Linked DNA regions of Homo sapiens: region 1 is linked to region 2. The links come from fine-mapping of genetic effects on gene expression. A gene starts in region 2. The other region holds a variant in brackets. All regions are shown on one strand. Distances are from middle to middle. Region 1 overlaps ADAMTS12 (ADAM metallopeptidase with thrombospondin type 1 motif 12). Region 2 holds the start of TARS1 (threonyl-tRNA synthetase 1).

Region 1 (8,346 bases), 270 kb before region 2:
TCTTATGAATAGTGCTGAAATAGACATGGGGTGCAGGCATCCCTTTGACATACTGATTTCCTTTCCTTTGGATAAAAAGATATTAGTGGGGTTGCTGGATCATACGGTAGTTCTATTTTTAGTTTTTTGAGAAACGCTTATACTGTTTTCCATAGTGGCTTTGCATTTACATTGCATTTGCATTACATTTTGATTTACATTGCCAACAACAGTGTTTGAGAGTTCCTTTTCTTCCGCATCCTTGCCAGCATTTTGTGTGTGTGTGTGTTTTTGACAATAGCCTTCCTAACTGGGGTGAGATGATATCCCATCGACTCATCCTAAATTAGTTTAAAGGGGCTTTCCCCCTTCTTCAGCTGTAACATATAGGCAGCTGTAGGCTATTACTTTATCTCCTATTTATGGTTCCCCAATTTGTAAAACTCTCTAAAAGAAACACCAACTCCTGAAAGACTCTAATTGTTGAATTGTCCAGACTTTCAAATAAATACAAGTGGTATCACAAGCCCACATGAAGATTTCAGGTTCTTCCTGGAGGACAGGGGTCCAACCAAGACTACCATGCTCTTATCTGTAAAAGAAGGTTGGTGTCAGAAACGAGATCTTTAAGACTCTTACTCTGAATGATAATGACCAGAATAACTAGTTCTTACTGGGTTTTTTAATGTCTCCCAAATAGATTTATTTCTATTGACAGTAGATTCTTGTCATATAATCAGTCTGACTTGAAAATTAATCACATTTGCCTTTTACTCAGTAGTGGCAAGAACTAGAGCCAACTTTGTGGACTAACCAAACAAGTGAATCGACAGAATATGGTGACCCGTTTTTCTCATTAGTTTCATTAGTTTCAGTTTATTTTATCTTCTCCTCATCAATTTTTTTTTCTTGTCATCTCCTGATTTAAGTCATCTGGCCATCCTGTCTTTATTTGGAACCCACATTAGTTGTTTTGTGAAATAAAGCAGGCTATATATAAATCAAATGCCCATACTGGGTCCATTTCCAAATTTCTGTTTGTGATATCTTGTGGTTTTGAGGATTAAAAATGCTTTAAAACCAGCAATAAAAGGTTGTTCTAGCTTTTAAATATGTATTTTTAAAAGCTCTTGTTAAAACTTCTGAGAATGAAGGAGGAAGTTAAAACTAATGAGGAAGTTACTTTGTATGTTGGTGGTTTCTGTTTACTTGGTTCTGTTTTTGCTCCCTAGAACTTGATTTCCACAGCAGTGAGCTAACAGCACTCCTGCTATTGCTGACTGGGCATATCTACATACAAAAAATCTTGATAAAACAATGTGTGCTGAGGAGTGTAAGTATAGCTCCCTGACTGGCCCTTTTAATAATACTGATTGTTCCCTTTGTTGCATTTCACATTATGAACCAAACTCTAAGAACTGATTGGGAAACGTCTTCTTCTTTTCAGAAACATCCATTCAGAGGCTTAAGGCCTCAGATTCCTGGCCTTCCACAGTTACAGCTCCAGTGTGGAGTTTGTCCAGTATGTGTTTAAAATCAAGATGCAAATCCCTAACAAGTCCTAAATTTATTTTAAAATGTGGCCAAGCTATACAGAGTCTAGCCAAATCCCATATTCTGCCACTAGATGATTGCTATTGGATCTAGGCCATGACCCCATTGATTTTTTTACAGGCAACTTTGCAGCCCCAAAGCCAGATATTGAATCAAGGAAACCAAAGTCCCAGTGTTCAGGAGGACAGCATTGTACTAACCCATCTCAACCAGCTTCACCTCTTTGTACAAGAAGTACTCAAGAGGCTGAAGAGTTGTGAGGTTTGGGTGAAGAGGCCAAACTAGTTCATCTTTGCCAGTTTGTTATGTAGATCATCACAGCTTCTCACCTATGTCAGTGATTTTGCACTTAGCCTTGTCTCTATCTTTTACCTTGTCAAACCTCACCAACTCTTTTCTCCACCTCTGTCATTCCTAAAACCTATAGTAACTACTTCACTCAGTACCTTCAACTGAATCTCTGTGGCTTAGTGTTGCCAACGTATCCACCCCTGCAAGAGATAAATCTGCTGCAAAGATGAGGGTTTTATAACTTCCTTTTCACAACTTGCTGCTCTTCCTATCTATGCAGTTCTTCTCCCTGCCCAAGTTTCATTACTTGTCTATATTTGAAACCCACCTCGAAAGAGCATTGAAAGCATTTTACTTCTTGAGGGTGGTATGTGCTTTTGGGGGATATGTTGAGACCTTCTGCCATCATTCGAAGTCCTGATGCTGCCTTGGCTGTTAATTGACAGTGAGGTTTTTTATGTTTTCCAGCCAGTTTTTATTTGTTAGATCAATTATTAATAGTAATATTTAACATTTAGTAAGTATTTACGGTGTGCCTGCTACTGTTACATGTGGTTTATGCATCAAGTCATTTAATCCTCATCAGAATTTCGTTACATTCCAATATGTCTCCATTTTACAGATGAGTAAACTGAGGTAGAACAAAGCCAAGTAAGTTATACAAAGTCACTTAGGAGTTACTAAGAGATGGTACTAATTTGGCTTTGGAACTGTGCCCAAACATCATTCTATCCTGCCTTCACTGGTAACCTACTGCATCCTCAGAAAATATGGAAATACTATTCTTAAAATTACAAGCTCAAGTGTAAGAGGCTGAGCAGATATTTGAAGATTCCAAGTACAACTAATATTAAGTGATCAGTGATCTGCTTTCTGCACATATCCTTAGGGTCACTCCTTCTCTCCAGGATCCATTATATTCCCTGTGTTTAAGTAGTAATTGTATCTTTGAGTTTGAAAGACAATAAATTTGACAATTCTAACTCTAGACATTTTCAGAGAGAATATTGGAAGAGCGATGAGGGAAGCAATGATCATACTCATTTATTAACATTGATTGTACATATTTCTTCTTTGGGAGGATGTTGCTTGTGTGTTTGTTTACACAGTTCTGTCGTTTAAGAGAGTAACAGTAGGGAGTGGTGCCTGGAGCATCATGCAGTGAGTTTGGAAGGACACCAAAATCTGTTTGTGCTGTGTGTCCCCTGGGGTGTGAGACCTGACAGGGCCAGCTGCAGCCCTACAAGGCCTTTAATTTAGAATTTCCTGAGCCACTTATGGTTCCAAAATATTTCTTATGTGTTTCAAAATAATAATTGAAAAGGAAGTAAAAACAGCCAGTCAGCTGTAAAAATTGTATGATATCTAGCAACTGGGCTGGGTCACCGAGGGTGGACACCCCTGAGAGAAAT[A/C]AGTAACAGAGCCTTGGAAAGCACCATGTTAATTTGGATGGGGAGGTGGGGATGTGGCTGGAAGAGGAGAGGAGATTCAGGGTTCTGGGAGTAAGTTGAGTGGGGTTAGTCAGTCACTCTCTGGGTTGTGAGTTCTGTGTAAAAGGCATTGTTGAGGTCCCGAGCTGGTGATAAAGCTGGTCCAGGGGTAGGACATGGTATTTGAAAATGGTGGTGCTGAAAGTTGTTATTGGAATCTTCACTGCAAGAGAGAAGAAGAAGAAATGACCACATAATTTCCATTCTTATTTTTGCCATCCCTCAAGATGGTATATCATTTGGCCCTGCCTATCTGTGCAGGGGAGTCTCTTAGACCACTTGCCCCACATTCACTATGTCTCAACCAATCCTCTTTCTGAAAATTTTTAGTACTCATTAAGATTTTTCCTGCTATAGAAGTTCTATGCTTGCTCTTTTCTATGTTTGAAATATTATTTCTGTGTGTCTGCACATAGGCTTTTCGTCACTGAGGTCTCAACTTAAATGGCACACCCTCAAAGTGATGCTTCTAGATCATGCTATCTAAAATGCATTCTTCCCTACACTGTTGTTTAAGCAGTCTGTTCGTGTCTTCCACAGTGCATAGGACAACCTCTAACTTTTGAGAAGTGTGATTGTCTTACTTGTTTGTCGTAGGTCTTCACCATCAAATTCCAAGCTCCATGAGGCCAGGAGCCATGTCATTATTGCTCACTGATATCTTCTCCATTTCTAGTACAATGACTAGGTCATAGCAGATGCATAATAAATATTTGTTTCAAAGGGAGAGAGTGGCAAGAAGACTTGACAATTTGAGATCAGAAAATGGAGACGTGGTGAACCTCTAAAATGTGTTACGATTAGTTCCAGCCTACAACCTTGGCCTCCTTGACACCATGCTCCAGTGGTGGAAACTGCATTCAGGATCATTTTTACATGCAGATTCTTAGGCTGTCTTATATGGCAATGGTTGGAGGATAGACCTGAGTGAAGAAGCAGAAATTTTATCTGATTAGTGCCTTGGAAAACACTAACACGTTGCTGGAGCCTTCAGGAATTTTTATTTTCCAAATTTAAAACTCTAAAAATAGTTCTGAAATAATATAAGTTACTGATTCCTCCCATATAACACAACACTTTTTATGGAATGGTCATACCTAGCATATCTTTGGGTCACCGTAACAGTCCTGGGAAGGGACTAAGACACACAATTTTAAACCTATTTTGAAGATAAGGAATTGGCTTCGAAGAGTTTAAGTGATTGTAACCATTAACAAATAGCTGGAATTAGAATCTCGTACACTTGGTTTGCGTGGATTGCTTACTCTACTACATTTTTTCAGACAATATTTTATTTTTATATGTTATTTTCATGGTAGATTGGATTTTGACTTGTTTTTTTCTATTTTATTATTTTATTTTAATTTCTGGAATACATGTGCAGGTTTATTACATAGGTAAAAGTGTGCCATGGTGGTTTGCTGCAGCTTTCAACCCATCACCTAGGTATTAAGCGCAGCATGCATTAGCTACTTATCTTGATGTTTTCTCAACCCCCACATCCCCCCACAACAATCCCCCATGTGTGTTGTTCCCCTCCCTGGGTCCATGTGTTCCAAGTGTTCAGCTCCCACTTATAAGTGAGAACATGCAGTGTTTGGTTTTCTGTTCCTGCTTTAGTTTGCTGAGGATAATGGCTTCCAGTTCCATCCATGTCCCTGCAAAGGACATTATTTCATTCCTTTTTATGGCTGCATAGTATTCCATGGTGTATATGTACCACGTTTTCTTTATCCAGTCTATCATTGATGGGCATTTGGGTTGATTTCATATCTTTGCTATTGTGAATATAGTGCTGCAGTGAACATATGTGTGCATGTATCTTTATAATAGAATGATTTATATTCCTTTGGGTGTATACCCAGTAATGAGATTGCTCAGTCAAATGGTATTTCTGGTTCTAGGTCTTTGAGGAATCACCACACTGTCTTCCATAATGGTTGAACTAAGTTACATTCCTACCAACAGTGTAAAAGGGTTCCTATTTCTCCACAGCCTCACCAGCATCTGTTGTTTCTTGATTTTGTAATAATTACCATTATGACTGGCCTGAGATGGTATCTCATTGTGGTTTCGATTTGCATTTCTCTAATGATCAGTGATGTTGAGCTTTTTTTCATGTTTGTTGGCTGCATAAATGTCTTCTTTTGAGAAGTGTCTTCATGTTCTTTGCCCAATTTCTTCTTAATATGGTGAAGCATAGTATTCTTTTTTTGTTTGTTTTTGTTTTGTTTTGTTTTTTATTTGTTTTTTTATTTTTTATTTTTTAGTATACTTTAAGTTCTGGGATACATGTACAGAACGTGCAGGTTTGTTATATAGGTATACATGTGCCATGGTGGTTTGCTGCACACATCGACCCGTTATCTACATTAGATACTTCTCCTAATGCTATCCCTCTTCTTGTCCCCTACCCCCTGATAGGCCCTGGTGTGTGATGTTCTCCTCCCTGTGCCTATATGTTCTCATTATTCAACTCCCACTTATAAGTGAGAACATGTGGTGTTTGATTTTCTGTTCCTGTGTTAGTTTGCTGAGAATGATGGTTTCTAGCTTCATCCATGTCCCTGCAAAGGACATGAACTCATCCTTTTTTATGGCTGCATAGTATTCCATGGTGTATATGTGCCACATTTTCTTTATCCGGTTTATCATTGATAGGCACTTGGGTTGGTTCCAAGTCTATGCTATTGTGAATAGTGCTGCAGTAAATATATGTGTGCATGTGTCTTTATAGTAGAATGATTTATAATCCTTTGGGTATATACCCAGTAATGGGATTGCTGGGTCGAATGGTATTTCTGGTTCTAGATCCTTGAGGAATCTCCACACTGTCTTCCACAATGGTTGAACTAATTTACTCTCCCACCAACAGTGTAAAAACATTCCTATTCTCCACATTCTCTCCGGTGTCTGTTGTTTCCTGACTTTTTAATGATGGCCATTCTAACAGGCATGAGATGGTATCTCATTTTGGTTTTGATTTGCATTTCTCTAAAGACCAGTGATGATAAGCTTTTTATCATATGTTTATTGACTGCATAAATGTCTTCCTTTGAGAAGTGTTTGTTCATATCCTTTGCCCACTTTTTGATGGGGTTGTTTGTTTTTTTCTTGTAAATTTGTTTAAGTTCCTTGTAGATTCTGGATATTAGCCCTTTGTCAGATGGATAGATTGCAAAAATTTTCTCCCATTCTGTAGGTTGCCTGCTCATTCTGATGATAGTTTATTTTGCTGTGCAGAAGCTCTTAATTAGATCCCATTTGTCTATTTTGGCTTTTGTTGCAATTGCTTTTGGTGTTTTAGTCATGAAGACTTTGTCCATGCCTATGTTCTGAATGGTATTGCCTAGGTTTCTTCTAGAGTTTTTATGGTTTTAGGTCTTATGTTTAAGTCCTTCATCCATCTTGAGTTAATTTTTGTATAAAGTGTAAGGAAGGGGTCCAGTTTCAGTTTTCTGCATATGGCTAGCCAGTTTTCCCAACACCATTTATTAAATAGGGAATCCTTTCCCTATTGCTTGTTTTTCTCAGATTTGTCAAAGATCAGATGGTTGTAGATGTGTGGTGTTATTTCTGAGGCCTCTGTTGTGTTCCATTGGTCTACAGATCTGTTTTGGTACCAGTGCCATGCTGTTTTGGTAACTGTAGCCTTGTAATATAGTTTGAAGTCAGGTACCATGATGCCTCCAGCTTTGTTCTTTTTGCTTAGGATTGTCTTGGCTATATGGGTTCTTTTTTGGTTCCATATGAAATTTAAAGTAGTTTTTCCTAATTCTGTGAAGAAAGTCAGTGGTAGCTTGATGGCAATAACATTAAATCTATAAATTACTTTGGGCAGTATGGCCATTTTTACAATACTGATTCTTCCTATCCATGAGCATGGAATGTGTTTTCATTTATTTGTGTCTTCTCTTGTTTCCTTGAGCAGTGGTTTGTAGTTCTCCTTGAAGAGGTACTTCACATCCCTTGTAAGTTGGATTCTTAGGTATTTTATTTTCTTTGTAGCAGTTGCGAATGAGGGTTCACTCATGATTTGGTTATCTATTTGTCTATTATTGGTGTGTAGGAATGCTTGATTTTTGCACGTTGATTTTGTATCCTGAGACTTTGCTGAAGTTGCTTATCAGCTTAAGGTGTTTTTGGGCTGAGATGATGGGGTTTTCTAAATATCCAATCATGTCATCCACAAACAGAGACAATTTGACTTCCTGTCTTCCTATTTGAATATGCCTTATTTCTTTTTCTTGCTTGATTGCCCTGGCCAGAACTTCCAATACTATGCTGAATAGGAGTGGTGAGAAAGGGCATACTTGTCTTGTTCCAGTTTTCAAAGGGAATGCTTGCAGCTTTTGCCCATTCAGTATGATATTGGCTGTGGGTTTGTCATAAGTAGCTCTTATTATTTTGAGATATGTTCCATCAATACCTAGTTTATTGAGAGTTTTTAGCATGAAGGTGTGTTGACTTTTATCGAAGGCCTTTTCTGTATCTGTTGAGATAAACCAGCTAGCATCATAATGACACGATCAAATTCACACATAACAATATTAACCTTAAATGTAAACGGGCTAAATGCCCCAATTAAAAGAGAAAGACTGGCAAATTGGATAAAGAGTCAAGACCCATCGGTGTGCTGTATTCAGGAGGCCCATCTCATGTGCAAAGACACACATAGGCCCAAAATAAAGAGGGGTTGCAATCCTAGTCTCTGATTATACAGACTTTAAACCAACAAAGATCAAAAAAGACGAAGAAGGGCATTATGTTATGGTAAAGGGATCAATGCAACAAGAAGAGCTAACTATCCTAAATATATATGCACCCTATACAGGAACACTCAGAGTCATAAAATAAGTTCTTAGAGACCAACAAAGAGACTTAGACTCCCACACAATAATAGTGGGGGACTTTAACACCCCACTGTCAATATTAGATCAACAAGACAGAAAATTAACAAGGATATTCAGGACTTGAACTCAGCTCTGGGCCAAGCATCTCATGAGAGTTCATGAGATGAAGGGGGAAGGGA
Region 2 (8,346 bases):
CATGCATCAATACTTGTCATTGTACCTTTTTATTATCAAATAATATTCCATTGCTTACTTATCCATTTATCAGTTGATGGACATTTTGGCCATTGTCTTTTAAATCCTATAAAATGCGTTACTTGTATAATTAAAAAAAAAACTAATTTTAAAATATGACTCCTAATTTCATGCTGAGCTAAAATCCCCCCTACTCCAGAAGTCTGGATTTAATAAACTTTAAAGGTTCATTTAGATTCAATAGAGCCTTTGTTATACTGCAGAAGTGATGTAACTGATCAAGTATACTGGGTAAAAAGAAAAATTGCGGCTGGGCGCGGTGGCTCATGCCTGTAATCCCAGCACTTTGGGAGGCCGAGGCGGGCAGATCACGAGGTCAGGAGATCGAGACCATCCTGGCTAACACGGTGAAACCCCGTCTCTACTAAAAAATACAAAAAAAATTAGCCGGGCGTGGTGGCGGGTGCCTGTAGTCCCAGCTACTCGGGAGGCTGAGGCAGGAGAATGGCTGGAACCCGGGAGGCGGAGCTTGCAGTGAGCAGAGATCGCGCCACTGCACTCCAGCCTGGGAGACAGAGCAAGACTCCATTTCAACAACAACAACGACAACAAAAAAAAAAAAAAAAAGAAAGAAAAATTGCAGGTCTGTGCAGGTTTAAAATGGAAAGATGATAAAATAAGTTTTATATTTCTGATAAGATTATTTTGGTTTTGACCATTTGCCAAATGAACAGGGGTAGTGAGAGAGAGAGAGAGAGAGAGAGAGAGAGAGAGAGAGAGAGGGAGAGAGAGAGAGGGAATCACCACAAAGGTTTTCTGGTTCTAAATACGGCTCCATTTTACAAACAAGAACACTGGCTCAAAGAAGTAACTTGCCCATTTGTATCATTAAGTAATAGAGCTGGGAAATTACAACAGGTCTCTCTGGAACCCTGAGGCCTATGACCCCTTTTCTACAACACTGGGAAGAGAGTAGGCAACTGTTCTCTATTTCCCTGAGTATATATGGTATGTACATCTACATACAAGTAATCTAAAATCTCAACCCAAAAGTTGGGAAACAGAACCGGATTGTGAAGAGAAGCTACAGAATTACCTTTCTCAGGAATGATCTGTCCCTGACTCACTCAGAACAGCACAGGGGTTATTAGTATTGGCTATAGGATACTGGGTTTGAGGAAGGAAAAAAACGGGGATACTGGGTTTGAGCAAGTTACTGTTCCTACGCCTGCTTTCTCATCTGTATAATGGAGATAATAACAGAACCCACTTCACAGCGTTATTAAGAAGACTGAATGAGGCCGGGCGCGGTGGATCACGCCTGTAATCCAAGAACTTTGGGAGGCCGAGACGGGCGGATCACGAGGTCAGGAGATCGAGACCATCCTGGCTAACACGGTGAAACCCCGTCTCTACTAAAAATACAAAAAATTAGCCAGGCCTGGTGGCTGAGGCAGGAGAATGGCATGAACCCGGGAGGTGGAGCTTGCAGTGAGCCGAGATCGCACCACGGCACTCCAGCCTGAGTGACAGAGCGAGACTCCGTCTCAAAAAAAAGAAGACTGAATGAGTTAATTCATGGAATGCATTAATACAGTGCCAAACTCGTATTTAGTACTCAAAATAAATATTAACTATTGTATAATTATTACAGGAAGGAAAAATTACATATGTGTTAACCATACATATCACGTCCAATTAAGAATAGCACAGGAGAATATTTATGGACATGGAAAGTTGTTGACCACATTCTATTAAGCAAAAAAAAAAAAAAAAAAAAAAGTTACAAAACAGTAAAAATATCATTTTATGTGAAAAAAATCTACGTATAGTCACCATTTATCATCTAGAATTAAATTTACATAGTTAGAATGTGCCCGTATGCAGTTTCTCCATTCAATCTCGAGTGGACAATCAAGAAAAAAATTTGGCTTTTAAGTGAACTGTCCTGTCACAGACTTGGGATAGAGGATCCCTTAGCTGAAGACGTCACCACTTCTCACTTGGACTATTACAACAGCCTTCTGCATGTGGCCTAACCTTCTATCCCAATGCCAGCGTGACTTTTACAAATACAATCTTCCTGCTTAAGATCCTTCATGTATAGAATACAAGTTTCAAACATCCTTGTTGCCTAAGATCCTTCTGATTACTGTTCCTTTAACCCTTCTGGCATATCTCTTGCAAACAACCCGAAAGACAATTCACCTGCGTGCCCCTTTTCACTGCCTTCCCTACCTTTACGTGGGAAGCCCCGTCCTGCCTGTTTACCTGGTGAAATCATTCTTCCAAACTAAATTCTAAAGTGCCTTCCTAAACTTCCTCTTCTGTAATACCACAAGGTTGATCACAAAGCACTAGGGCTGTTTTCCTGTCTCTTACACATCAGCCTGTGAGGCCCTCAAAGTCGGGGAACTGGGCCCTATTCATCTTCCCACATGCACCGCCCAGATCAGTGCCGGGCAAAATGTATACTTAACCACCCAAACTTGGACAAGCTGGGTCAGATCTCGGGCACTCGGTTTTCCTTTCCTTAAAATGGAGCTCTTTACCCCCGCAGGATCTTAGGAGATTGATTAAATAAGGCTCTGCAATGTGTTTCCCGCTTACAGTAAGCCATAAACGCAAGTTTGGAAGCCTCAAGCCTAAGATTCTGATTCTGTCTCCGCGTCTAACTACTGTAGATGTGAGGCTCTGAACAAGTCGCTCACTCAAGGTCTGTTTCCTCATCTGTAAAGAGAATGGACCCACAGATGAACTGCAAGGCCCCACCCTAATTTATGAATGGATGGTTCCCAAAGGGGGTTCCGACTTTCCAGGAGTCCCACCATCCCCCACTTCTCCGACCCACGCGGTCCCGGCCGCTTCCTGCTTCCTGCCCCCCGCTCCCGCCGCGAGCGTAGCGTCTGCACCCACTAGAGTCCCAGGCTGGTCTCTGGGTCCCACCAAGTTTGCTCACCGGCTTCTCCTCGCCTCCCATCTTCCCTGAAGGACTGCTGGCCTTCTCCTCAAACATTGGCGAACGACGAAGCGATGAGAGAACCCGAAAGCGACGGCCTAGAGGAGAGGAGCCAAGAGGCGGGTGGGAGGTGGGCTAGCGCCCGGGACTTGGCCTCGGCTGGACCAGCTGATGCAATCGAAAGGCGCCCTAACCCCGCCCCCAACTTGCGGCGGAACGAGCAGCCAATGGATAACGGGGGAAGGCGGGCCCTCCCTCCTCTAAGCCAGTGGAAAATCTTTTCGGGTGACAGAGCCCTTCTAGGAAATCAGGTCGCGGAGGGTGAGGAGGAGCAACTGCAGAAGCTACATGCCTACTCTCCGCTGACCTTGGTCTGGACGCTTTCCAGAGTCAAGTCCCCAATGCGCGTGCGCCTTTCCTCCCTTCTGACTTTATGTGGAACAATCATGGACCTTCCCGGACACCGTAGATAATAAGTAGGTCTTGGTCTAAACTTCCGGGAAGTTTTCGGCGACCTGGATACCATCTTCGACACGGGGACAAATCCCGGGATGGAGTCCAGGGTTTCCCGCGGCTTCGGCGCTTCCTGACCTGGCGTGACTGCCGACTTGTCGGCACCACCCAGGCCTCAGGCTCCCTGTCTGTAGTGGTGAATCGACCTTCCTCATGGCAGTCCAGGCTTCCCAAGCCCCATGTCCTGTTGATCCGGGACAAACTCTTCCTTGAACGTTCTTCACTACGAGCCGCTGCTGATCTGTACTGCCTGGAGGAGCATTTCCATAGCGCCCGCAAAAATACAATAAAGCTCACCCAAGGAAATAACCATGGATTCTCACGCCTGGGTGCCAGTGTTTGGAATCGACTGGGCTTTTTTATGTTAGTAGGCAATTTAAAACAATTACTTATTTGAAATCAGAAGCGCAATAGGCATAACTTCAGGTACGTGCTCCACCACCACGTTTTGTGGATTTTTCTTTTTAAACATCAGTTCTGTTCTCTACAACTCTCCGCCTTCAGGGTTATACTTTCCAGGAACAATAGCTTCCCAATTCGGCTTTGTGCATCCATTTTTCATACAGCATCGTTGTAGTCTTCAAATACAAATATGATCACGGCAATCTGCTGAAAAATCTTTGGTGGCTTTCCCTTGCTCTTGGACAATCCCTGATTGTCCAAGTTTTCGGCTTCATCTCGTTCGCCCACCATACACTGAACTATAAACTGTAGTGGCTTTTTTTCCTCAGGTCTTCCCACAGACTAAGTACCAAGATTTTTCCACCCTACCCTCATCCGTGCTCATTCCGACACACTTTTTGCCTGTTTGACACCTCATTTATTGTCAGATTTCAAGAATCGTTTTCTTCGGGGAACCATTTCTTGACTCCCTTACTGGATGAAACAAGCCTCCCTGTTAAACAGTGTTGGAGGCGCAGAAACATACCCCCAAATAATGGCGTTTTGACATCTGAACTGAAGAAGCCTCAAGGTCCCACTCCCCTAAATCCCCACGCCATCTCTGCCAAAGCAAAGGATAAAGTTTAGACACATCACAAGGAACATAATTGTTTTTGTTGCCTCCCTGTAAGACCAAGAATGTAGTAATCACACCTGAGCAGACCCTTTCACAAGATGTTGTACAAATTAATGTGTTCCTGATACATTCATTCTCCTTTGTAATCCCTCAACAGAATTCCTCTTCTCCCTATCATAACCTGTGTCGCTGGGATTGTATCCACAAGCTTCTGAAGCCCTCTGAGGGGTGGGTAATCACGCTGTGATTCTTCCTGTGTATACACGTTAAGTAAATTTGTATGTTTTTTCTATTAATGTTCCTCATGTTAGTGATTTTCAGCCAAACCTCAGAGGGCCAAGGAGAAAGGTCCCCTTGGCGCTTACAATAGTGTCTGCTGGTAGTTTCATGTGGTTCTTGGTAGAACTTACCGGTTCAACTTGTTCTTTCACTATGTGTGTATTTAGAGCTAAGCAAGTTTACTATATATGTGTATATATATATATATATACACACACACACACATATACACATACGTATATGTATATACATATATTATATATATATATATGCACAGTAATGGTTCTGATCAGTTGGCCTAAGAGTACACCCTATGTGGGGCTTCACGTACTGCTACACTCACAGGCAGAATTGGGGGTTGTTTTTCTGTCCAGAGTGATTGATCCTGATTACAAGGGGACAAGCGGGTTTCTTCTACATAAAGGAGAATTTTGTCAAGAACCCAGGAGATTCACTGAGACCTTTTTTAGTACTTCCTTGTCTAATGTTTCGCTGTTGGAAAACTCTGGGAACCCAACAAAGACAAGGAAGGAAGGAAGGTTTGGGCTATCCTTCTAGGTAAAGAATCTAGTCTAGCGAGGTCCTGACAAAGGCTAAGGGTAACTTGAAAAGGTGCTAGGAGAACAGAGTTATGCAATATTAGCTACCTAATTTGCAGATTACATATATATGTATACACATATACATATGTGTGTGTGTGTGTGTGTGTGTGTATATATATATAACTGCTCTTTAGCTGACACCTTGATTTTAATAATAGTCCTTTTCTTTTCTTTTTTCTTTGAGATGAGGTCTTGCTCCATTACCCAGGCTGGAGTGCAGTGGCACAATCATAGCTCACTACAGACTCAAACTGCTGTACTCAAGCAGTCCTTCTGCCTCAGCTTCCCAAGTAGGTAGGACTGCAGGCACACACCACCACACCCAGTTAATTTTTTCTTATTTTTTATTCTATCTATCTATCCATTTATTTATTTTTGAGACAGAGTCTTGCTCTGTTGCCCAGGCTGGAGTGCAGTGGTGTGATCACAGCTCACTGCAGCCTTGATCTCCCAGGCTCAATTGATCCCCTCGCCACAGTCTCCTGAACAGCTGGGACTACAGGTGCACACCACCACGCTCGGCTAATATATATATTTTTTAATTTTTAGTAGACATGAGGTCTCACTATGTTACCCAGACTTGTCTCAAACTCCTGAGCTTAAGCTCTTCTCCTACCTTGCAAGTTTATAGTTTTTTTAAAATATATTTTATCTCCTTGATTGAAAACTTCACGAAAGCACACTTTGTGTATTTTTGCCAGCATCTGGAAGATGTAAACCTATCGCACAGCAGATGTTCAATAAATGTTGAGTGTTGAGACAAAACTTGCTTAATTTTTCAAGCAAGGTTTGGAAAATTACCTCTTTATTTGTATTATAAAAGAAGTCAAAACCCCTTTACTAACTAGATCTAGAAGAAAGTTTATGATGAGAGTAGATTATTAGTAGTGCTTGATATTCCAGGAGTTATGTACAATTTTAATAGGCTTAAATAGACCAAACTAACTCCCCACATTTAAATTAGAATGAGAATCAATAGGATCTAATCTTACCTTTTAATGTAAAACAATTTAATTATGCTCATTAGACACATTTGCCTGAATTGTATCTTAATTTTAACTAAGTATAATGAAAACCAGAGAGATCAAGATTCCTGAATTTGCTGGATGCAGAAAATGATAGGCTAACAATTATATTTAACTGCTATATAACATTGTTTCTAGCAGCTTCTCTTAACTCTTTGTTCTCTTTCAACTTTAAAAACAGTCCTCATTTAAGTATGGCAAAAAGAAAAAGCAGAAGGCGTTTCTTTTTTTAAATATATTTTTATTATACTTTAAGTTCTAGGGTACATGTGCACAACGTGCAGGTTTGTTACATATGTATACATGTGCCATGTTGGTGTGCTGCACCCATTAACTCGTCATTTACATTAGTTATATCTCCTAATGCTATCCCTCCCCCGTCCCCCAACCCCACAACAGGCCCCGGTGTGTGATGTTCCCCTTCCAGTGTCCAGGTGTTCCCATTGTTCAATTCCCACCTATGAGTGAGGACATGCGGTGTTTGGTTTTTTGTCCTTATGATAGTTTGCTGAGAATGATGGTTTCCAGCTTCATCCATGTCCCTACAAAGGACATGAACTCATCATTTTTTATGGCTGCATAGTATTCCATGGTGTATATGTGCCATATTTTCTTAATCCAGTCTATCATTGTTGGACATTTGGGTTGGTTCCAAGTCTTTGCTATTGTGAATAGTGCTGCAATAAACATACGTGTGCATGTGTCTTTATAGCAGCATGATTTATAATCCTTTGAGTATATACCCAGTAATGGGATGGCTGGGTCAAATGGTATTTCTAGTTCTAGATCCCTGAGGAATCGCCACACTGTCTTCCACAATGGTTGAACTAGTTTACAGTCCCACCAGCAGTATAAAAGTGTTCCTGTTTCTCCACGTCCTCTCCAGCACCTGATCTTTGACAAACCTGACAAAAACAAGAAATGGGGAAAGGATTTCCTATTTAACAAATGGTGCTGGGAAAACTGGCTAGCCATATGTAGAAAGCTGAAACTGGATCCCTTCCTTACACCTTATACAACAATTAATTCAAGATGGATTAAAGACTTAAATATTAGACCTAAAACCATAAAAACCCTAGAAGAAAACCTAGGCAATACCATTTAGGACATAGGCATGGGCAAGGACTTCATGTCTAAAAACACCAAAAGCAATGGCAACAAAAGCCAAAATTGACAAATGGGATCTCATTAAACTAAAGAGCTTCTGCACAGCAAAAGAAACTACCATCAGAGTGAACAGGCAACCTACAGAATGGGAGAAAATTTTTGCAATCTACTCATCTGGCAAAGGGCTAATATCCAGAATCTACAAAGAACTCAAACAAATTTACAAGAAGAAAACAACCCCATCAACAAATGGGCGAAGGATATGAACAGACACTTCTTAAAAGAAGACATTTTTGCAGCCAACAGACACATGAAAAAATGCTCATCATCACTTGCCATCAGAGAAATGCAAATCGAAACCACAATGAGATACCATCTGACACCAGTTAGAATGGTGATCATTAAAAAGTCAGGAAACAACAGGTGCAGAAGGCATTTCTAACAGGTTGACTGTGGTGCAGGAACATAGGGGAAGAATGTAATGAGTTGCTAGTGTGGGAACCTCGCAGAGGTATCCCTGTGGCACAGTGCCCTCTGGTGTTAGGAAGGTGTTCTTTCACTATGTGTTTAGAGCTAAGCAAAGATCACGGGAGCGTCCAACACATCTCAGACCTAAAGCACAAAACACTGTTATACAACTTTTGTGTATTTGCCAACAAAAAAAAACTTCTGATTTACTCCCAGTGTTATAATTTATGCCCACTGTATTAACCCGTTCTCTGCTATGAAGAAATACCTGAGACTGGGTAATTTATAAAGGAAAGAAGTTGAATTGACTCACAGTTCTGCATGGCTGGGGAAGCATTAGGAAATTTCCAATCATGGCAGAAGGTACCTCTTCAC

The links. PIP is the estimated chance that this variant, and not a neighbour inherited with it, causes the effect.
Region 1: its variant is fine-mapped to the expression of TARS1 in whole blood (INTERVAL, PIP 0.96).

Annotation. Positions count from the first base shown.
Region 1 is chr5:33,706,182-33,714,527 of GRCh38, reverse strand. The region is part of intron 3 of ADAMTS12 (ADAM metallopeptidase with thrombospondin type 1 motif 12); the gene reads left to right. Among named protein-coding and RNA genes, the nearest start is that of ADAMTS12, 180 kb to the left of the region's middle. The variant A/C (reference allele first, on the strand shown) is at 3,237.
Region 2 is chr5:33,435,757-33,444,102 of GRCh38, reverse strand. TARS1 (threonyl-tRNA synthetase 1) reads right to left here and starts at 3,138. Exons shown (of 19, transcript NM_152295.5): 1 at 2,960-3,138. The coding sequence starts at 3,016. TARS1-DT (TARS1 divergent transcript) reads left to right here and starts at 3,469. Exons shown (of 3, transcript XR_001742630.2): 1 at 3,469-3,898. RefSeq lists enhancers at 2,030-2,616, 2,631-2,690, 2,951-3,140, 3,241-3,550, 3,205-3,792 and a silencer at 8,077-8,126.